2 separate regions of the Homo sapiens genome follow, and region 2 is linked to region 1. The links come from fine-mapping of genetic effects on gene expression. A gene starts in region 1. The other region holds a variant in brackets. All regions are shown on one strand. Distances are from middle to middle. Region 1 holds the start of BAHCC1 (BAH domain and coiled-coil containing 1). Region 2 overlaps BAIAP2 (BAR/IMD domain containing adaptor protein 2).

Evidence for each region.
Region 2: its variant is fine-mapped to the expression of BAHCC1 in anterior cingulate cortex (GTEx, PIP above 0.99).

The regions. Positions count from the first base shown.
Region 1 is chr17:81,387,917-81,403,224 of GRCh38, reverse strand. BAHCC1 (BAH domain and coiled-coil containing 1) reads right to left here and starts at 7,768. Exons shown (of 28, transcript NM_001377448.1): 1 at 7,590-7,768; 2 at 3,308-3,691. The coding sequence starts at 3,485. MIR4740 (microRNA 4740) reads left to right here and starts at 2,447; the gene lies at 2,447-2,509. RefSeq lists enhancers at 429-954, 1,254-1,433, 5,813-6,421, 6,422-7,030, 9,114-9,671 and 4 more and a silencer at 9,056-9,325.
Region 2 is chr17:81,064,237-81,072,236 of GRCh38, reverse strand. The region is part of intron 3 of BAIAP2 (BAR/IMD domain containing adaptor protein 2); the gene reads right to left. Among named protein-coding and RNA genes, the nearest start is that of BAIAP2, 33 kb to the right of the region's middle. RefSeq lists an enhancer at 7,087-7,693. The variant G/C (reference allele first, on the strand shown) is at 4,338.

The sequences.
Region 1 (15,308 bases):
AGGAGCGGGCCCAGCCAGAAGCCAGGACGGGGGGCTGTCTATGTGGGCCTCTCCCCAGGCCGGGGCTGCCTCGGATCACACACACACTCCCAGCAGAGGCGCCAGCCCCAGTGGCTCCAGGCAGTAGCACTGATGAAAAATCTTGGGTTGGTTCTTGTTGATTTCTCTTTTCTCCCCCCTAGATTTCACAGCTTTGCCTCCGGACCATCTGTATTAGAGACAAAATCTAACACTGAACTAAAAATAATGATTCCAAACATTTTAATTGCACCTTTTGGTGACAAGGTTACTGGAACAGCACTTTACCATAAAACCTGCGGCCCGAGTCTAAAGCTCCCAGCACTTTCATTTTTAGAAAAACAATGGAAGAAGCCTGGGAGCCCCATGTCCCCACCCATCAGGGCCCCTCAGACTGACATTCTGAAAGTGTTGGGTGGGGTTGGGGAAAGGCAGCCCCGGCAGCCAGCAGGAACAGCCTCAGTCCAGCCGGGGTGGCAGTGCCAGGCCAGACAGGCACAGGAAGAGCAGCCCAGCAAAAAGAGGCAGCCTCATGGAGGCCAGGGCCTCCATCCCCGATGGTTGGATTCTACTCCCAGACAGGCGGGAAGAATCCGGGTCAATTTTCCTTTCCAAGGGGCAGTCAGCAGAGGGAGGGGCGGGCTGGCTGCAGCTGTGGCCTGCGGACTGAAGCCATCCAGGAAAATGGGAAGCAAGGCAGCCAAACCAGCCATGTGGAAGTCCGCACACAAGACGCAAAAAAATTGTTTAACGTAATTATGCTTTTTTCTCTCTAAACTAGATCATATATAGACACAGACCAAAGCAAAGTGATCTGGGGTATAATTCTTTTTTTAAAAAAATACATGCAGCTAAATTTTAAAAACCAATACAATATTCTGGCTCTTAACAATTTCAAAAGGCTTTCTTTCAGCTACAGATGCTTCTAGCTGGATGTCTGCATGACCAAGTTGCCCATCACAAATGGGTTGAACATCTCCGAGCACAAGCGTTCTCTTCGGTCCGCAGGGGGGAGGAAATGGGGCCTCCAGGGACGGGGACACATGACCCTTCAGACCCTGAAAGAGGCAGCCCCGAGGGGCCTCCAGCGCCCTCTAGAGCACCCTGCGCTTGGGGAGGCTGGGAGGACCTGGGATCAAGAAGAAGCAGGGAGGACACAGGCCAGGCCAGAGCCCAGAGCCGTTTCTCACAGCCCTCCGGGGCCTACACGCCAAGAACCACGTGGCCAAACTTAGAATGAGCAAGACAAAGGGCTAGGCCACCCGACCAGGCGCCCACCTACCCGGGTGCTGCCTAGACCTGGAAGTAAGGGCAGAAGGGGGAGAATGCAGCTGGCCTGGACCTGGCCAGGATGTGAGCTGGGGCATGGGGTCAGGGAGAGTGCTGACCTGACCTGATGGGGAATTTGGCCTTGCCTCCCGGAGGGGACAGCCCCAGCCTGCCTGTGCACCAACATGCAAGCCTCAGTGTCAGGGGCCCCTGTCTCTGTCGTGCTGTTACTTGCCAGGCTGGAGGGCACGGTACAGTGGAGGTGGGGTGCACACAATCCCCCTACCCCCAGTGGGGGCCACCAGCCTTCAGCCAGAAGAGGGGCTGGTGGGGAGGCTGGCGAGCTGTCCCTTCTGCCAGGGCGGCCCCAGCCTCAGCGCCCCGTGCACCTGAGCCGGGTGGGCAGCAGCTCCCATGCAGGGGCAGGAAGACAAGCTTGATAACCACAGGGACAGCAGAAGAGATATTTTTAAATCACCCATCGCTCAGGCAAGTGCTTTTTCTCCTTCTCTTTCCAGTTACAAATCTAGAGGAGAAAAAAGAAAGGGAGAAAAAGAAGGAAGGGCAACAGAGAGAAAAGGGCAGCCTCGCCAAAGGCCCAGGCAGGGAGGGAAGCGGGTGTGGGCCAACCCGGGAAGTGCTGGGGAGACCCCTCCACTGGGCGGCTCCCCCATTCCAATCTCCTGGCGCTGCAAATGCTGGAAGCCCGTTAGCAATTAAGCAATTTCAAGTTTGTTTTTTTCTAGAAAATGTACGTTTTTCTTTGAGTGCCCTCCCTTTTTCCGACGTTTTCCTTTCTAGCCCCGTCTCTGCCATCCGTTTTAATCCACACACTAATTGTAATCCCATTAAAGCAGATATAATTTTATTAGTATTCACAGTTCATCAAGCTACCAATAATAACTGTTACTGCCAATTTTGTTTTTAAAAGCGACAAACATTTCTGATGTTTAGAACAAACTGTAAACAAAAGCCACCCATGTACCAGGGTGACCCGGCGGGTCCCTAGCGCAGCCCTGCGCGCTTCCCCCGAATCTACCCGCGCCGCCTGGTGACCTCTAGGGCTTCAGGCGTGGTAGCTGCCCCTACCCTGACCTCCCTCGACACTCATATCAAAGCCACCGGGAAGAGGGCTGCCCTGGAGGCCTGGGCCCGCTCTGCCAAGGACTGATCCTCTCGGGCAGGGAGTCAGAGGGGACCGCCCGAGAGGATCCGTCCCTGCGAGGCCCAGCACGGCGCCCCACGCTCTCCTCTTGGAGCAAATCCGCCTCGCTCTCCTCTTGGAGCAAATCCGCCGCACTCTCGCCTGCACCGAAATCCTGAGCGCCGCCCCGCGCCACCCCCAGCCCGCGCCCGCGCTGCCCTCCTCCCCGGGCCGCAGGCTGAGAGGCTGGGCCGCACTCTGGCCACGCTTTGTCCGGCTTTAGCGGGATACCAGAGGCACTCGTTAAGGCAAATGCATCCCTGCAAACCCATTCTCGCCCTGACACTTTAAGGCTTTATATAGAAACAGGATTTGCTCGTCTTACACCAGCAGTCCCTATTAACGCTCGCCCGGCGCACACACCACTCTAATCCGCGAGGCCGCGGCGTACCCTGGTCCCCTCCCCCCGCCACAACAGCCGTTTTGTTTCCGCAGAAAGCGCCTCGTTGTCCCAGCCCCGGAACGTCTTAGGGAGGTGAATGCAGAATGCAGAAAAGAGGTTTCCGTGGAATTTAGATCTGCAGGAGGGGGCGGGGGAGGGTGGCGAGGCGCGGAAAGGCTTTAATTTCAGCCGGCTCCGGGGCTGCCCCTCCGAGACCCCCGGGGGAGGGTGGCCAGGGAAGGGCCTCTCTAAGCCGCGGCGACGCAGCTTGGGGGGCTGGCGGGACGCGCGGCCCCGCTCAGCGCCCAGGCAGCCACCGCGGCCGGGGCCGGGAAATGAAACCAAAGCTTCTCTGCTCCCGGGAGCGGAGGGGTGGGCGCCCTGTTCCGCTCTCGAACGCTCCCGTCCCGCGCCCGCCCCGGCCGAGCACTGACCTGTGTGCGAAGCCATGGGCAACGGCGACGGGAAGTACTTTCCCGGCTGGAAGTGTGCGGGGGGCTGCGCGGCGGGCCCAGCCGGGGCGAGACGCGCGGCGGCAGCGGCGCTGCGGTGGCCCAGGCTCCCGCGCTCCGACAGCAGATGCGGCGGCGGCGCAAAGTCGCGGCCATCCATGCCGGGCCCCGGCCCCGGTCCGCCGCCGCTTCCTCGGAGCAGCGCGGCCGGGGCCCGGGGGCGGCTCGGCGCGCGGGCGGCGCAGAGGCGGCGGCGTCCGGGGTCACAGGCGGTGGTGGCGGCGGGGCCGGTCAGCACGCGGGAGGACTGGGCTTCTCGGCGGGCGGCCGCGCACCGAGCCAGCGGCCGCTGTGCGGGTCCATGGTCTGTGGAGGCAAAAGCAGAGGAGACACGGGTGACTGGGGGGCTCGGCTCGCCCGGGGGTCCCCGCCCCGCCCGCTCACCCACTCCCCCCACCCCCCACCCCCGCCGGCCCGAGCGAGCGGCGGCCAGGCCGGGTGGCGGGGCCGGGGCGCTCGGTGTCTCCCCGCCGCACGCGCGCGCAGCCCAGCACCCGGGGCCCCGCGCGCGCACGCACCGTCCCGGCCACGCTTGGCCCGGGGCAGCCGGGGGAACCCAGCCGCACTGCTCGCCGCCTCCCGTTCTCGTCCCCGCGGGTCCCTGCAGCTAGGGCGCCGCGGCGAAGAGGCTGCTGGCTCTGCTGGGTGATAAAAACCCAAATCTGCGAAGCCATCACGCACACTCGCACACACACACACACACACACACACTCACACGCACACCCTCTCCCCTCCCCCGCTGCCCAAAGGTGTCTCGGAGGAAAAGGCCTGGGGTCCACACTAGCTCTCCCCCTCTCCCCACCTCATGCCGAGGTCCAGCTTTTACTGCATTCCGCTTAACCGAATAACCATGCTAATTAAGCGAGTAATTTTATTGATTGTAACTCAAGAGTTTTTTTTTTTTTTAATAACCTTCCTTTTCTCCCCACTCCCATCCCCCTCATGCATCTTTCGGCCCATTCTTCTGAATCCACCGTGGTCCCCCCTCCCCAGCCCCAGCGGGACCAGCTCCTGTCCCCAGCATCGCGCTAGGACCCCAGGCCGGCTCCTCAGAGCCCCGGAGGCCCGCAACCGCCACCGGCATCACCTGGGCCGCCACGCCGCAGTGCCCGGCCTGCTGTCCCGGAGCCGGGAGCTTCCTGTTGAGGCTGTAACAATCACCCCGCCCCCCAATCAAATTCGCCCAGGATCTTCCTCTGCGGATTGGGGGCTTGGGGGTGTGTGTGGGGGGGGTGCTTTCAGAGTCAGAATGCTCTCTCTCAACGGCCCAAATCGGCCCTGGGATTTCTTCCTTCAGCGCCTGCCGGGGACCGCGAGCAGAGGCCGGTCTCCGCTCCGGGCAGTACCGGGCGGCCTGGGTACGCGGGGTCTGCGGCGCCCAGCTCGGCCCTCTAGCCGGGGAAGGTGGGCCCGGCCCAGCACAACCTTCTGCCAGCAGACCCTGCCCGGACCTCGGCCACCTAAAATAACCCTCACCTCCATTTTCTTCCACCCCCACCCAACGCGGAGCATCCACTCAGGCGAAATTGGGGACAATTTTAGACTCTGGGTGCGGAGGGTCGGAGCCAGTGATAGAAGCTGCGTGCACCACCGTGCTCCCAGGCGTCCCTCCGAAGGCGCTCCCTGGACGCACTTCACATATTACTCCTCATCTTCTAAATACGTATTGTTTTAATGTTTATCACCTCCAACAAAAGGGAGATGGATAGGCTTGATATTCCTAATTAGGAACTTTGCGGAAAACCTTGTGTTTTTGTAGCCATTCCACCATGACAACAAAGCGATTAAGATGTTTTCCATCTACTGAATACCTTTTTAAATTGCGATATTTTATGGTCCGGGTTCTAAAACGTCTTATTTGCAGACTATTTTGTGTTTGATTTAATCTATAACCGAAAACATAATGTATTAAGTGAATACATATTTGCTCAGCTGATAAGCTTTTTTAATATTTATTCGGAGAGCTTTTGCATTGTAAATAAATGGGTCTACACAAAGAGTTCTCTTTGTCTGGCAACTACATACAAAGGCGTTTGGGGCTCCCTTCCCTCTGGGGATCGCCAGCTCTCTCCCCGGGTCTAACAAATAGCTCGGCTCCCAAGCCCCGATCCCGGCCTGCAAAGCGAGCGCCCGGCCGCCAGGGCCCGGAGAGTGCTCTGGCGAGGGGGCTGCGAGCGCAGGGGTCAGGGGAGGGGCTGCCCGGGCTGGACTAGGGACGTGGGGGCCCCCAGCCCCGGCCGGCGCCTCCCGAGCCCCGGAGGGCGCCGGGCGGGACAAAGGGAAAGAAGGAAAGGGAGGGAGGTCAGAAACCTGCAGCTTCAAAGGCGCCGAAGGCCGGAGAGGGGCCGGGGGCTGCGCACGCGGGGGTGCCAGGCTTCCTGGCGGCCTCCAGGGAGTCGTGTGTGCTGTGCTTTTGTTTTGTGGTTGTTTTTTTTTTTTTTTTTCTCTCCAATAAGAAATTTCAAAGTTGAGAAAGCGCGAGCTGCCGGCGATTCTCGGGACGCGGGCTCGGCTACGAAGCAACAATTTTAATCTCCCACCCCCTGCGGGCGGATCGCAGGCCCGATTGTTCCTTTCTCACCAGCCTGCTCGACTTTTTAAGCAAACAGGAGGTGGATTACTGTCGCCTGCCTGCGCCGCCACGGCTCTGACCGGATTGGAGAGAGCTTTTCTTTGTGTTCTCTCCTCCCGGGGAGAGGCCGCGCCGCGCCTCCGCGTCTGCCCGCGCCGGGCTTCGGGGGCCTGGGGAGCCTGAGGCGGCCAGGAAGTGGGGCGAGGAAGGGCGGCCACACGGCCCGAGCTGGGAGTCCCACAGTCCCGCAGCGGCGACGCCGCCACCCGCCGAGTGCCGAGGCCCGGGGCCCACTCCCAGCCCAGCTCCAGGAGAGGCCGCGCCGGAGGACCGCGAGGACGGCGCCGCAGCGCCAGGTCGGGCTGAGGTAAGGGAGGAAATGGAGCGAAAAGTGGCGGCGGGCAGAGGGCCCCGGGCGGGCGGAGAATCGCTGACGAGGGCATTTCGGAAGGAACTGAACCTAGGAGCACAGGGCTCCCTCCCGGGAAGGCAGGGCGTGACCCTGGAGCCGCCGGTCCCTCTTGCCGCGGCCCCAGGCGTGGCTGGCGCGCTCCAGGATCTGGAGCTTCTACAAGTTTGCTTTGTTTCCTGCTTTTGCATCTAAAAACCCGCTCTCTCCTCGCCCGCCTGCCGGAGACCAGGACTCTGGCCCGTCTGCCTCCCTCCGGCGTCGTCTCCGGGAGCGCGGGCGCGGTGGGGCCTGCAGGCCGGGCTGGGACCAGGCGCGCCTTGGGGCGCGAGTGGCTCGGCCGTCGCCGCAGAACCCGCTCCCTGCGAAACAGCCGCACCCGCTCCCTGGGAGAGTCATGAGAACTGGGGTCGCGCCTGACCCCCGCGCCCGAAGAAAACCAGCCCGCGGACCCCGCCACACGGGCCGTGACCCGAGCCCCGCGCGCCGTCCCGAACGCGCGCGGTGAAAACGCCCCGCTGCGCCGGCCTTGCTCGGTCCCCCTCCTCCACCCCCACTTCTCCGGAAAAAAAAAATTCTGAATTGGGAACGAAGACCCGAAAAACTCGCCATGACCATTCCCCTCCCCGGCCCCTAGCTTCGGCCCGGAAGGCCCCTCAGGGCAGCGGCCGTGGGTACCACGACCCGGCCAGTTCCCCTCGCCGCGGACCGACCGGGCAGGGCCAACCCAGGACTGTTCCGGGGAGGGGAGCAGGGTAGGGGAGCGAATGTTGGGGTTCGTTCGTGGGTCACCCAGAACTGGGCGCACGCTGGCGGCGCCCGGACTTCGCCTACTGTCCGCCCGGTGCCACCCGCGCGGCTCGCGCCAGACGCAGCCTGGCGGTCCCTGTCCTGTCTTCGAGTATTTGTTTTTAATGCTGGGTGTCGATCGAGACAACAAGCGCTCAGAGCAAAGCAAGGATGCATTACGGGGGTAATTTTAAACCGATCGATAAGATTTTTCAGAGAAAAAAAAATCGCTCATAGTCCATATTTTTTAAGAAAAAAAAAAGCCTCAACATTTTAACGGATTTTGTTAAAAGGGAAGATATATACTTCTTAACATCACAATCCTGAATTTCTTTTGCTAAAAAAAATGTAAAACCCCAAAGCCAGAATAAAAAATAAAATAATAATAAAAATACAAAAACAAAAAAAAAATGAAAGCAATTTCAGTTACTTACTGGAGGCTGTTTCCTGGATACAACTGAATGCAATACAATTAAATCAGTAAATGTGACTTTGTTTTGTATTCCTATTGGTATTTTCAATGTGCTGACTGTTGCACTGTAAATGCACCGCTTCCACAACAACGACTCTAGCGAGCCCATCCAGAGCGGCTCTCAAACCTGCAGCCTGGCGCGGCGAGCCACGGGCCCTGCATACTAATAAGCTCGTGCCACTCAGCCCGGAACAGCCAGCGCGCTGATTGGCCGCGCAGCCCTCCACGGCCGGGAGCTCGTGCCACTCATTCGGCGTAAACAGGCCTCCCAATAGGCTGGCGCCGGGCCAGGGAACTGCCAATCAGGAAGCAGCGGGGCTACTACCAAGCCCGATGGCGCCTAATTCAAGCCCGGCGACTGCGCAGCTCCTCTGCGCAGATCATTGCTGCTGAATGGGAATGTGGTGGCGCAGGGCGGGAGAGGGAGCTGGAGCGAGCGAGTGCGCGTGTCCCGGCGGAGGGGGAGGCGTAGACACAGACACAGACACACACACACACATATATGTTTAATCCAGCAGGTCTAACGTTTGGCTTCTGCCGCACAGAAGGCCAAGGGAAGAAACACCACCACCCCTTAAAAGTAGCTGCTTTTTCTCCCTGGAATCTGTCTGGCAGGTGGCAGGTAGGCCAGACCTCCAAGCCCAGAGGCCTCCCCAGGTTGCCTGGCCCATCTACCGCTCTGAAGCTGCTGCCTGCCCGGACCCGAGCTCGCGGATGCACGCACGCACGCCCGCTGCTTGGGCAGCAAAAGCTTTGAATAGCCCGTCCGGCTCTCTCCTCCCCATGACCTGGGGATCAGACCCTGGGAAGTGAGTTCTGAGTCTCCAGCCGTCTACATTACTGGCTCTCAATTTTATCTCCCTCTGCCACACTTTGCAACAGAGCAGCTACTAAAATGAAAATCAGGGATTTATTGAGAAGACAAGGATTGCCCTTTCTTCATCTACACCTAGATTTAGAAAATATTTTCAGTTTGGTAATGGGGGAAGCGGGTATGGTGTGGTAAACCATGTATAGTATTTCTCAATGCTGCTCCCTGTCTGCCTATCTGCTAAATCCTCACTCCAACTAAAGCAAGCCACTGAACAATTTTTATCGTAATCAGATGCAAACCACTTCTAAAATATTCCGCAAACAAATATTTCTGTTAGAATTTGGTTTCCCACCCAAATGCTATTTATTCTCAGGGAGTCGAGGTGATGTCTTAGTGGCGATGGATACATTTATTTTTGCTCCTCTTTCTCCATGTGAATCTCTGCCTCCCCCTCTGGGGGAAAAAAGGATATTTAAACTAGGAGCCAACTGACAGATTCACACGCATTCGAAATTCTCCACCGTCTCATTCCGGCAGGGACACGAAAGAGTTAAACTCAAAGCCTGTTGTCTCTCTGTTTCCCCGCCCCCACTCCCGCTCCCGCGGGACCGCTGGGATTGGTTGGCACTCCGCCAGTGGACTGTCCATCACCGAGTGTAAACAAGGCGCTGATTGGCTGTTGTCCAGTCCGCACTGGGCCTCCTGAAAAAAGCAATTACTGGCTCCGCGGTTTCAAGGCGGCCCAAGGCCGCTTGATGAAAGGAGATAAGCTGGGGACCGTTTCCAGGATCCCCGCGGGCCGACCGGGGCAGCCCGGGAGCCGAGGTGCGGCGGAGAGCCCGCGGATCAAAGGAATCTGGAGAGAAAGGGGAAGCGGGCGGCCGGCCCCGGCCGGCCTTCCCCCCCGCAGGCCACGCCGACCTGGGGTGGGGGGCTGCGGGCCGCGGGCGGGGACTCCGGGATTTCCCGCCTGCCTGAGTCGGGGCCTACGCCGGCGCCCGCTTCGGGCGGCTCGGCCCGGAGGGGAGCTCCGGAGAGCCCGGGGCTCGCAGGTAAGCACCGGCGCTCCGCGGGCCGGGCCGGGGACGCAGGACAAGGCGCGGGGCCCACCCCGGCTGGCTCGGGAGTGGCGGTCGCGCGGGCCCGGCTCCCGTCTCCGGCGTCTCCCGGCTCCGGCGGCCGGGACCCCCCGCGGCCGAGCCCCTGGCCAGGCCCCAGGCCGGCGCCTTCGGAAGCGACGTCTGGCGGGCCGCGGGGCACGAGGGGGAGAGCCGGGAAGCGTAAATCCCCGAAGCGCGCGGAGATCCGATTAGCGCGCGGCTATTCATTAGGCTGGGGGCGATTGAATTAGGTCCCTGGGCGCGGTCGCCGGCTGGGGGTGTGTGGCGCCGACCCCCGGGCTCTTGCCGTGGCCTCGGGAGGCTGGAGCAGCGAGCAGCGGCCCCAGCGAGTGTGTCGGGGAAGCGGGTGCCTCCGGGTCCCGGCCCCGCGGGTGCAGGCGGAGGCTGCCCGCTTCCCGCGTACACCGAGGACGGCCGGCCCGGCTCCGGAGAAATGGCGCTTGAGAAAGGAGGGGAGGGGAAGGTTCCCGGACCCTGGGCAGGGACCCGTCGCCGGGGACCCGCGGAGCCCTCCGGGGATGGAGGAGGCGCGAGCTGGAAGCGGCGCGCGAGCCCGAGCGCGGGGCTAACACCGTGGGGCCCAGTCTCTCCTGGCTCGGGTAAGTGGACGCGCCCCGAGGCCCCGGGTCCACGCAGGGCGCCCCTCGCAGACGGCGCATTTCCTACTCTCCTAAGGAACCGAGTTCCCATCACTGCCTCCGATGAGCCTGTTTCCGGATCAGGAACCTTTTTCAAGTTAATTTTTAAAGCCTCATTTGAATTTTTTAATATAGGAAAATACGTATACGAGAAAAATCTTGGATGCAACAAAAAGAACACCGTGGCCACCCGTGGTGTCCCAGAAGTTGCTCTGAGCTCCTCGCATCAGGGCAGGTGCTCCACCTCTAACCGCCCTGTGGGGGAACGGGAGGCCCCAAGCCCCTGGGAGTCCTGGTCTCCTCTAGAGTGTGTTGGAAGGACAGCCGCTGGAAAGGCCCCTCAGAGCCCCTAAACCAGCCTCCCCTCCCCCGTGGGCAGATTGTTCGAGGGTCCTGGAGCCTGAATGATGGGCCCTCGGCTTGCCCACCCCCATCCCCAGTCATCAATCACCATTTGAGAAATGCCCACTGCCAGGGACATGGGAGGGCAGAGGGTAGCTCGCGGGTGCGTGGCCCCTATCTCCTCAAGCTGGTTTAGACCCTTCTGGCTCAGCCTCACCAGATTCCTAGGATGAGCACTGGCTTCAAATCCCCCAAGTGCTGGTCCCTTCGTGTCCCCGAAAGAGGCTGCTCGCGTGGGCAAAGGCCCCGAGGCGTCGAGTGCGCCTTCCAGGGCAGTGCGGAAGCTCCCTGCCCTCCTCCTTCCTCCCCACTTCTGCCTCCTCCTCCCCCAGTGTTCACTTGAAGCAAATTCTAGTGGGCTTTTTTTTTTTCAATACTGTTTCAAAACAGTTGTTACAGCAAATAACTGCAGACGGGTCTGCTGGACGCGGTGGAGAGGGGCTGGCAGCTGCCCAGCACAGGCGCCTGGCCGCTGGGCAGCTCCCGCAATACCAAAATAAGCTCCCGAGTTCCCCTGGAAGACTTGGGCCGCCGGGAGCTCAGGCTGGCGATCTGCTCAGAGGAAACCTCCCTACTTTCCTTTTTTACTCTTCCTGCTGTCCAGAGCTAACAAATGTTTTTAATTTCAGAGGAACATGGTGTGGGGATCTGCAGACTTGCCTTCCACTGGGGAGAGGGCCAGCGAGGGGACAGAGGGGGAGGAAAGGAGAGGGGATAATAGACCCGAGGTCAGTGTTGATGCTGGAGGGCCCAGGTCTCTGAAGTTCCTGCAGCTTTGCAGGTGAGCGGGCTGCAAGTGAGGCTAGGCCTGTGGACACCCAGTGGGGCCTGGAACAGTGCCAGGAGTGGCCTTGAACCCCACCTTGATCCCTCTCCAGCAGGATCTGGAGTCACTTCCATGGGCCTGGCATACACCACTCCAGATTTGCCCTCTGGCCTGGGGAGCAGATAACCCCCCGCCCCACATAACCAGCTGCGCTCCTACACCTAGCAGGCCGGCTCACATCACCCTTTAACGCACACTATATTCACACACACACTTGTGCACAGTCTTGAATGTGTGCCCACACATCTGCCTGCACACACTCATGTGCCCACATGTGAATCACTTGGAAGTGTACACAAAACCAAACCCACAGCACAGATGGGCAGACAGGTGAGCCTCGTGCAGCATGTGACACTCCCACATGCACAAGACATGTGTGCAGAGGCATATCACACACGCAGAAGCACTCCCGAGAACTGCCTTCTCCCTTTCAGCCTAGGGGCCCCTGTTCCCCCACAACCGGGCCCAGCCCTGGAGCCCCCTCCAGCACTCCTCTCCCACCCCCACGCTCCCCAAGAGCAGCAGATGTAGGTCTCCCGGCTCCCAAACCTCTGAGATGCTGCTCTGTCTGAAATCATCATATAAATAATCATTTTTTAATACAAGGGGGTGGGGGTGTCAGGCAAGTTCCATGAAATTGTGAATTAGCCGCTGCTCCAAATAAATGCCTGCTTCGGCCCGAGAGCAGCCGCGCTGCGCCCGCTGCGCCCCCAATAATCGTGTGTTGGGTATCTCTCCATTGTTCCCTGGGCCATTAGTCAAAGGGCAAATTAGAAACAATTTCTTGACGACAAAAATTGACTCTTAATTCTTCCCACCAGAGGCGCAGGGGGACAAGTCCAGAGGCCAGGCCTGAGGCTGGGGCTGGCGGCAGGAGGGGTAGGCGGGGTAGAGGTGGGGTAGAGGTGGGGGATCTAAGATGGTTCACAGCACAGAGACCTCCCTCAACTGGAGGGCAGCAGCAGCTCACCCCCACCCCAGAATCAGTGTTCCAGAGGACAGCTGGGGGCAGGGGGTTAGGAACAATCCCACTCCCTCCTGGAAGAGGTCCTGACCCCCCACCCCACCCATCTGCCTGTACGGGTCCCTCTGCTATCGACTGGGGCGAGTTCTTTTCATGAGGGCCTTGCCTGGTGCCTGGAGGGAACAGGGTGTGGGGGAAAGGTCTGTGTGTTCCCCCCTCACCTCCCCTGCTCAGCGGTGTGGCCTCTGGCTCTGGGGAGGATCGGGAAGCCCCAGGGTCCGTGCCTTGGAGTGGGGGGACAGCCTTTTCTCTGCCACAGCTTCTGCCTTTGGAGGCTTACCCTTCCTAGGAGCAGAACTGTTGTGGAGGGGAAGAGGACGGCGAAGGTTCCGAAGGGAAGGGGGCTGCCCCCACTGAAAACGAAGCTTCCAGTCACAGCCCCTTCATTATTTATCAGGACCCAGGGGATGAGGTGGCAGGGGAGGGGGCTGCATGGAGGGAGTGCCCTCACCCTCGTCCCCAGCGCCTGCCCCCTCCCGACCAGGCCTGGGCTGAGGCCCAGGGTAAGGGGGCTGAGGCAGGCCACAGAGGAGCAAGACTTGTCAGGGGCCAGACCTGGGTAGGAGGATTGTCCTCCAGGCACACACGGCCCCCAGCCCCCCAGCCTGTCGAACTGGGCTCTCCCAGAAGGTCCCCGGCTCCAGCCCAAGCAGGGAGCCAGGTTGGGGGTGTGGGAAGGCAGAAGTCCCAGGGATCCTGGGGGAGGCTCAGGTTGTACCTGAAGGCCACAGTCTCCTCGACAGACCTCGGACGAGGTTGTAAGTGTTTTAAAGAAACTAGAGCAGCAGAGAAGAGAGACTCAGAAGCCCGTGGCACGGCTTTCTCGGCGTCCCCTCCAGCGAGGGGGTCTCCATTGCTGCAGTTGCCGGTTTTGTCCAACCAGGTCAGGAGGCTGCCCGGCCCCCTCCCCACTCTCAAAGTTGCTTGTTAAACACAGAGTCGTAATTTGTGGCTAAATATAACTAGTGTGTTCTCACGGAAAGTATAATTCAGGGTGCTCATTGTATGAGGTTATCAACAAGACCCATCTGGGTTAAATTAAAGTGATTTTCATAAAGGGCAGAAGCGCCCCTTTGCCTGGTTTCCCCTGCCTTTTTATTAGTGACAGTGTTATTGTTGCAATTATTAGAGGGGATCAAGGAAGGTGGGAGTTGCCAGGGACCCCCAGGCTGAGGAGGGAGCCTCCCAGCCCCCCTCCACTCACCATTGTCCTGCTGCCCCTCCAGCCCCCTGGTCACTGTCACCTCTGCGGCTGGAGGGCTGGAGAAAGGCCCAGGAGCCCAGGGAACCTCCACCATGCCAGGCTGCCTTCCCTAAAGGCCGGCTCCTTCCCCCCAGGCAGCCAGTCTGGGGGTGGACCTGGAGGGGCAGGGTTCTCTGGGAATCTCTGGGCCAAGGGATGCGCTTTGGGGATCTGCTGGAATAAAGAGTAATCGGTTTTCCTTACAGGAGGTTGACCCGAAACAGCCCTCCGTCTTCCTGCCCATGAGGATGAGGACAGGAAGCCAGACCCGGGAGAGAAAGCCCAGATCAGACAGATGGGGGTTGGGAGGGCCTAGTGGCTGAAACTGCCCTGCTTGGGGACAATGCTCAGGCAGGACCAATCCAAACGAGGGCACTGCTTATGTGGTCCTTCCGGAGCATCCTCCAAGGCAGAGCCTGGCTTCGGGCCCTCCCTGCAAGGACACCTGCCTCCACTCCCTGCCAGACCAGGCCTGGCTGCAGAGGCGGAGGGGCGGCAGGGCTGCCTGTCTCCACTGTTTGGCGGTGTTTACACGTGTCGCTGTCAGGGTGTCTGGACAGTGGGGGTCGGGGGCCTCCCGGGCCCAGACTTCCCCAGGCCTATTCTCACACTGGTGAGAGGGCCCTAGGGGAAGGGTGTGGGCTGGGTGGCGGGGCCAGGCCAGCTGAGACCTACAGGACCGTGGAGCATTTAGGTCTCCCACCCAACTCCACCCGGTCCTCTGAGCATCAGTTACAGAGCCCAGGCAGCAGGAGGGCAGGGCCCAGCCCCTTATCACCCATCCTCAAGGCAGGCAGGAACCCTGAAGGCAGCTTCCACCAGGGGTTCCCTTAGCCCCCACCCTCCAAAAGCCCCAGACCCTGCCAGGCCTCACCCTGCCAGCATCGTGGCCCCAGCTGACGGCTCCCAAGGGCAGGTGCTGGCAACACAAGCAGGAGCCCTCGGGGCATCCCGCAGGGCACACACCAGGTCGCCCTGGGCTCCCCAAGCACCTCCCAGACCCAGCCCTTGGGTGGGTCCTGGCCCACAAACCCCCACGCCCTGCCCCTGAGATGAGCCCCACCGCCCACCTGCCCTCCAGCCCTGGAGACCTTTCTCCCCCTTGGCCATGGCTCCCATGGGGAGGCTGCAGGCCCTCCCTGGGCTGGACCAGAGGGGACAGACTGTCTCTCCCCTGCGACTTCTGGGGGCACTGGAGTCCTTGGCCTGGTTACCTTCAGCATTTATAGCCCTCCAGTGAGTTATTCCTCGGAGTTCTCACAGAGCAGCATGCGCCTGCGGCAAAGCCCTCACCTCCAGCCCCTGGACCACCTGACTGCTGCCTCCCGCCTGGCGCCAAACACGGCCACCGCCTCTTTTGTTAACAGGACAGTTGATCCATTAAATTAAAAATCATTCAATAGATTCATTTTTTTTTTCTGGCCTGAACAAATACGTATTCCATCTCAATTCATGAAGCATCAGTACCCGCTGCAGGGGTAATTCCCCAGGCGGGAGAGGAGTTTCGGGGAAAGTGCCCCCAAAGGGAGACTCCCCAGAAATCCCTTTCCAAGCAGCCAAGGCAGGCAGGCCAGAGGAGCCTGCCCCGGGCCAGGGCCCAGACCCACGCAGCC
Region 2 (8,000 bases), 330 kb after region 1:
ACGCTGCCCTGGGGCACTCCAGCCATCTGGGAAAAGGGAGTGGCAGCCCTTGGGCAGGTGGAATGCAGATGGCCCAGCCCACCCTCCCCAAGCTTCTGAGGGCTGGAGCCAGCCGGGGAGGGCACGGCACCCACAGCCCGCAGGGAACCCCAGCCCTACGTGGGCGCTCGAAGGAGGAGCAACAGGACCAACACAACCACGATGATGGCCCAAGAGACTGGGAAGGCCGGGGAGGCCGGAAGCAGAGGGGGAGGGGGGGATGATCACGGACGAGAGGAGAGGCAGCAAGGAAATGGAACAAGATGCCCCAGACTCTGCAGAGGCATAGACCTGCATGCTCCGGCGCCTCCGTGCCACGCTGGAGGAGGGGACCGGCCACCCACAAGGCCCTACTTGGCGTGGGAACTGCTCCAATTCTCGGCTGCCTCCTGGACAGAGCTCGGATGGCAGAATGTGAGCCACAGCAGCTCGTGGCGGTGCGGGATGGTGCGGAGAAGGCATCCGACCCCCGCGCTGAGTCTGCCGGGAGCTGGACGTGAGTCCCTCAAACAGAGGCTCAGGGACGGACGGGCGCTGCTACCGAGTGGTCAGGGTGCTCTTTTTGGCCAGTGGACACTGAGGGCACAGAAACACTCGTTTCCTGGATATTTCTGTTGCTTCCGGAGGCACTGGAACTCTTCTCCTTTCTCTGCTGGTGGAAGAGGGGCTCTGTGCGAGAGGTCAGCTGCTCCAAGCTGGCTGTGAGCATGCATCACCTTCCAGAGCCTTCTGAAGTAGCTATCCACAACTCTCAATTATCCTGGTGGCTTCCAGAGCCCAAAGGCACCTCGAGAGCTCATCACCACCCACCTGGGCAGGGCTCGAACAGAGCGCCCTCATCACGGGGAAGGACAGATGGCCAGGGGGCTGACAGGACATCTTGCTATCAGAGCCCCCACAGGGGCCAGGGGACCAGATCCAGTGCTGACCCAAAGCCCAAGGACGCCACCTCGGGGGTGACTCCCAATCCCGCCCCTTCTCTCTGCTGCCCTCCAGCCACCAGCTTCTCCTTGGGAGAAGCAGAGTTCTTCTCCCACCTACAAAAAAGGCAAAAATGGAATGTGGCCAGCGGGTAACCAATGGGGGAAAAAAAAAAAATCAATGTCTGTGTTGCCATGGTGATGACGGTAGCTGACGCTGCTTCCCCACACACAGTTCTGAAACCAAGCAAGTCCAAAGAGCCACCTTGGTGTCAAGGCTGGGTCAGCATTCAGATCTTGGACATGGGGGTGGAGGGAGAGCAGAGGCCGAGGCTGCCTTCTGTCATCCACCCCCACTGTCCTGAGCCACCACTCCAACCCGCCGGCTCCAAGGATGGGCCCTGGACCAGCAACGCACCATCACGCTGGGATCAAGGACCCTCAGGCCTGCCCGGGCCTCTGGCACCAAATCTGCTCACACACTCCCAGCGTCCCAGGCAGACGGGGGCTCCCGGGTCAGCGGCCATCCACCCGGGGTGGCTGGAGTGGAGGCTGCAGAGGGCCCCTACGTGACACACAGGGGTGGAGATGAGGCTCTGCGGGGGCTGAGCTAACCCGACACCTTCTCCCCACGGGTTGAGCGACCTGGCCAAGCCCAGCTCCCACAGCTGCAGCGGGACAGGCACGCCAGGGCCTTCTCCTGCCCCCGCGTCCACTAGGAACCCCTCTGCAGCAACCCTCCCTGTGCCTCTCTCCTCCCTCCAAAGCACCTTTTGCCTCTTCCTTTGCCCAGTGTCCGCAAGGAGGTTTAAGGTCTGACGGGGCAGAGGGGTTTCTTTCCACATTTCCACCTCCCTTTTGGCCACAAGTGACCAAGGTTGCCCGGCAGAGCACATTCAATACCCAGCCCGAAGGCTGCCTGGACGTCCGCTCAGTGTGGAGGGCAGACCCAGGCCACAGCTTGGAGCAGGGCCTGTTCCTTTCTTCATGGGCAAATTTGCCTTGCAAGACCAACCTCTGGCCAGGCACGGTGGCTCGCGCCTGTAATCCCAGCACTTTGGGAGGCCGAGATAGGAGGATCACTTGAGTCCAGGAGTTCGAGACCAGCCTGGGCAACAAAGCAAGCTCTTGTCTCTACAAAAAGTTTAGAAAGTATACAGGCGTGACAGCACACACCTGTAGTCCTGGCTACTCAGAAGCTGAGGTGGGAGGATCGCTTGAGCCCAGGAGGCTGCAATGAGCTATGTATGACTGCGCCACCACACTCTAGCCTGAGTGACAGAGTGAGACTCTGTCTCCAAAAAGGGGGAAAAGACAACAACAACAACAAAAAACCAAGAAAACAAAAAACCCTCCAATCTTCCTGGGTACAACAAGTGCATCTCCAAAGACCCTGGTCACCTCTGCTGCCTGTTCAGGTCCCACGGCACAGCATCCTCCCAAGGTGCCCTGGGCATGGCTCCCACGTGACCGGCGAGACCAGAGGTGTCCACCGAGGAAGGCTGGGAGGCGAACTGAACCTTGCCTAGGAACGTACTGGCCAGACTGAGCTCGTGAGTGGACAGTCCTGGCGGGGGAGAGTCCCCCGAGTGGGCAGAGGGAGCTGCCATGGATGGAGAACCACGCCCCCCGCCAGGCTTTTCCAGGGGCCTCGCAGACTACACCTCCCGAAAAGGAAGGGGCTACTGCAGAGGCAGGGAACAGACTCGAGAACTCCCAGCAGGCGTCCTTGAAGCCAGCCCTGGACCCCAGCTGCCCAGAGTCCCATGGCATGAGCGGGGGCCGCCGAGAAGCCAGGTGGGCAGTTCAGACCGGCCGCCCCGTGGACCACTCCCCAGCCTCTCTGACCACCTTGCCAGGGGCCACTCTCCCTGTCACCCCTCCAGCACTCCATGGAGATGGCATGAGCGCCGCCCCTCGGTACTTGGATCCAGGACTATCTGTGCCCGCGTGCGTGCTCTGGCTGGGTGTGTGCACGTGTTCAGTCTCTGCCCGGGACACAGTCCAGTTGGCCCTGCAGTGATGTGACCGCCTGCATGTGACTGCTGGTAACAATTACAAAAATGCTTCCAATGTATAAACTGTACCTAGGAGACCGTCACGAATGCCCGTGGACCCACCATTCGGAGCTACCAGAAGTTGATGCTCTGCCGTTTGCCCTTCAGACGTTTAAACAAACAAGCACAGTGGGGACAGCCGGAGGACCCAGCGCATCCTTCTAAGCCCAGCCCCTGCCACCGGGATCACCCCTGGGGCTGCTGAGACCCTGTCCTGTCTGTTTCTACGGGGCCCAGTGCCAGACAAGTCGTCAAATGTGTGACTGGGGAGTGGAGGAGCCTGGAGCAGCTGGAGCTCGGCAGCGGGCACACAGGAGCATGTCTGGGACAACGGTCACAGACACTGTGGGCAAGGGAACCCACTGGCACCTCCCACAGCCAGGAACGCAAGGCTGGACAGAGACACTGGCAACCAGATATGGCCCCCCATCCTGAGAAAGACACCTCCCTGGGACCGGAGTCCCCCCAGGCCCTCCCGCAGGACTTCATGTCACAACCAAGGAGCCACCGAGGTGGCCTTCTCTGCAGTACCAGGCTTGGGGGCACCCTCCCCAGGGCAGGGAAGCGGGGACAGGGGACACAAGAGCGGAGCCACCTGAGACGGGCTCCAGTGCTGGCTCCGTCTGTGCGGCTGCTGACTGCGGGGTCCTTGGGTCGTGGGCTTTGTTTCACACTGATCCTGGGGTCAGGGATTCAGGAGCGGCTTCTGGTTTGGGCCCTGCATCGCTGCCCTCCTACAGCTGGGGCCAAAAGAACACCCGTGACCCGGATGGCACTGACCAGGGTCCTGGCCTCCGGGGACAGACCCCCTCAGACAGCTGCTCTGCAGGGGACAGAAGCCATTCAGACCTCCAGTTCCTCACGCGTGCCCGAGGGGGAGACCCCTGCCATGGGCGTGGTCTGCTCCTAACCAGCCTCGCCTATCTGTGCTCACTGATTATTGACCAGGAGGGAACATTGCTCCTGGGAGAGAGTTTCTCAGCCACTGACTCGCTCCAAACCCTACAAGATGCAAACAGGAGCAGAGGCCGCCCTGAGAGCACCGGCCGTCATCTCCCTGCGTGGCTGCGACCAGTGTCTGCCAGGCCTGACGTGCCCACCCTTCTGCCAACTGGCACCACCCAAAGTGCATGGGACCCACGTCCCCCAGGACCCCAGAGATGCAGACACCTGCCCACAGAGGCTCCTGAGCCGGCACCTGTGCCCCCAGGCCCCTCGGCCTGCGGCCAACACTGTGTGGGGCCACATCGGAGGCAGCCAGCACCTCAGCAGCTCCTGGCTTGAGGAGGAAGGCTGAGCGGCTCCTCTCTTTCCCTCCCTA[G/C]GGAGCACTGGTGACAGTACCGAGGGACGGCAGGTGCCATCAGCTGTGCCCCAACCGGGGGACAGGCAGCCCCGGCATCTCAGGGGAGAGACCAGCTGTCCTCCCTGCTCTGGCCGGCTGAGGCCTGACGCTGTGGCGTGAGCGCTCAGGGAGGGTGCCTCCCCGCTGCGATGCTGGGCCAAAGGGAGCAGCAGCAACGCCGGCAGAGGACACCTGGCCGGGCCTCAGAGCCTCTTGCTGAGTGAGACTCCAGCAGCCCCTCTGTGGGTGACGCTCGGAGCTACTGATCACCAGCAGGAAACGGCTCAGGATCAAACCACGAGCAGCCAGACCAGGGGCCCACACTTGGCTGCCGCGGCTGCAACACGGCCAATCCAATCAGGACGGCTGCTAATCTCCCTGCAGAGCTCAGCCTGCACCGCAAAGCTGTTGGCAGGCGGGCAGGGCTGGGCCATCCCCAGCCACAGCCAGAGGGGAACAAGGCCCTCCACCCGCCCACCATGAGGCCCCCCCGCCCCCTTCCCCTGCTCAGGTGCTGGAGGGTCCCCACAGAGTTCAGCAGGAGCACGCGCCTCTGCGAACAGGCGGTGGGGGCCTGAAAGATCCCCATGGGGCGGGAGGCAGGGCCCAGGGCAGCGTCCTTCCCAAGCATCCTGGTGGCTTCTTCAGGTGGCTGTCTCTGGAGCACCCCTGCCGGAGTCCTACTGTAGGGAGGGAGGAATAGTGTGGGGGGGAAGGGAGGTACAGGCAGGTCGGAGCAAGCGGTTGGGCTCTGGAAGGGAAGCCCCCAGGCTGGGCTTGGGCCAGGGGCATCTCGCTTCCCTCTCATCTGCAGGCGCCGCTGTGCTGGAGGTCCGGGACCAACCAGGGACCTCCGTGTCAGGCCCCCTCGGGGATGTAAGGTTGATCTAATTAAGGCCTTCAAATGGTGTCTGTCAGGAAGACTTGGCAGCCTACAAGGCAAGGCCCTGCCGTGAGGGCCTGAAAGCAGGTGTCATGCCCATACACTGCTGTCACAGTCACTGGCCCAAAGGGAGGCTGCGGCCTCCACCTGCAGGAGGAGGCTGGGACACATGGGCCCCTGGGTGCACTGTGCATGGAGCCGCCTGAGCCCAGAGGGGCCGTGACACAGCCTGGCCTCACAGAGAGCAGGAGGCCCTACCAGGTGAGTGACATGAGATGGTGCTTCCGAGCCACTTTGGCCAACGGGAGCCACTGGGGACAGCCCCGAAGTCCCCTTGGGGTTCACATGACCAAGGACCTTCCCTTCTGCACAGGGCCCCACGTTTCAGAGACGCAGAGATGCCGCACACACGGAGGGAGCCACTCAGTGCCTCTAAGAGGGAGGCCGACACCTGCGGGGACAGGAGGGGCACCACCTGACCTGTGGGGGCCCCAGGCCCCAGCTCTCCCAGGTGGGCATTCAGAACACCTGCCTCACTCTGGACAACGAGGCGTGCACTGCAGCCAACAGCTATGGGAAGTTTCCAGGCCACACCTTAATTCAGTGACTCAGTGACCAAAATCCAGCCCACAGTTTCAGGCAGGGACAATGCCCCCTGCCAGCTAACATCCTCATTCTGAGGCTGGCCCAACAGGGAGCTCCTGCCACTCTCCCGGGCACCTGGGGATGCCGGGCAGCTGGCAGAGGACAGGCCCAGTGCGCCCAGCAGGTACACACACGCCCTGTGATCACAAACAAGCATGCTGTGGGCACCAGCGGGTACACAGCGGCCTCTTCAAAGGACAAAAACACACCAGAGGCCTCCAGAGATGGGAAAGGGCTGAGCAAAACAGCCTGGCTCAGGTGTTCCGTGGCAGGGCCACAGAGCAGTTGGACAAGAAACACAACAGGCTCAGGGCCCCAGATAGACAGGCTGGACATGCGGGTCTGACCACACAAAGGAAGTGCAGTGCTCTCTGCTGGGGAGGGCTGCGGCCCCGCTCACTGCAATGACAGCCCCCCTCACTGAAGACAGGGCACCGTCCTGAAGAGCCGACAACTCTCTACAGGGTGATTAGACCTTAGCCTCCCTGCACAGCCAGGCCAAAGGGCAGCTACGTGACCCTCTTTTCATACAGACGGTTCTGGCACACAGTGCTAGAGCCACCTGCCCAGGTGTACACGTTGTACCAGGACCCCAGGTCACTGGGACTCTGGCCTGCTCCTCCCATCTGCCTCTCCCGTTGGCCAGCATAGACCCAGGCTCAGCCCAGCTCTGTGCGCCCAGCCTCGGGTGGGGGAGCGAGAGGGCCTGGGCCATAGGCAGCTGTCAGCAGCAAGGGGGTGGAGGGGTGTGCTCAGGAGTGCAGTCACAGGACACTGCAAACCACAGCTGTCGGTGAGGCAGACTGGACAGCTGTCCTCCACCCGCACAAAGAACCAGTGCCACGTCCACCCAGGCACCCACACGGCCCAGCGGCATGGTGAGCACCTGCCCTGCCCTCCACCCTTGGGTCTCCACACCAGCCCCTGGTGGTGCCAGCCTCCAGGGAGGTGCCCAAAACAGAGGAGGAGCCACTCACACATCTTAGCAAATTCCCCAGATTCCTGAGGCTCTCAGCTCAGGACCCTGGACCCCTGCAGGGGGCCGGGACGGGCACAGCACTGCTTCTGTGACCAGGCTGGGCCCGCCCTCCCTCGGGTCACCTGCCAGGCTTGCTCCTGGGCCACAGGGACACTGAGTGTCTACACATGCCAGGACTGGCCTACAGGACTCAGATCCAGCCGGCCACTCCAGTCTCCCCGAGCTGCCAGTCAACCCAAGCACAAAGCCCAAGAGGATGAGGAGCAGACGCCCCTGGGAAAAGTCTAACCCAGGCACTGGCTCAGGGGCTTTGAGAGCAGTGGGTGTGCCCCGGAATCACGCCTGCCGGAGCTGGAAGGGAGAAACACCATGGCGGGGATTGGAAAACCAGTCAGCCAGCAGACAGCCAAGTGTGGGTGGCTGCCGGCTAGGGGATTAGAAGGGCTGTGAGAAGCTTCCGGAACTTGGAGCTGCCACTCCATTCCCTGACTAAGCGCTTGCCATATCAAAGCAAAGCCCTGAGAGTTAACTGCAGAAACTCTTTCACTGCAGGGAAAAAACAGTCTCTGACTGAAGACGGGAGGCCCTTCCGTCTGTGAGGTCTGCAGGCCACAAAGCCCGAGGCTGCCTCCCCAGCTGTGTGCCAGACGGCCAGAGCCACAGGTACAGAAAGACCCACATCACCAAAGGCCGGCTCTGACCCAGCCACTCCTCACTCCAGGAGAGAGAACAAAGGGGCAGCCCCAGCTGCTCATTTAAAGCAAAAAAAGACTCTCTGGGCTTTCACCCCTGGGCCAGGCTCTGGTTCAGAAGCATGAAAGCTCACGCAGGCCAAGGCTGGCTCCCGGCTCCGGAGACCTGGGGCTCACTTGGAGCAGCACGCTTGGCTACAGTGAGGGGGTGCTGCCAGGACCCTCACTCTTCCCAGGAAGAACAGAGCTCAGGGCTCTGCAGGGAAAGGGGGAGCGGGCAGCATCATCCACAGTGATTAGCCGGGAGTCAGTGCAGCCGAATCCTCGTCATCCTGACGGGGCTGAAGACAGGACCTCCCCGTGAGGGCTACATAGCCCGAGGCCACCTCCCCGGCTGTGGGCACTACAGGGCCAGAGGTGCAGGTACAGAGAGACCCACAGGA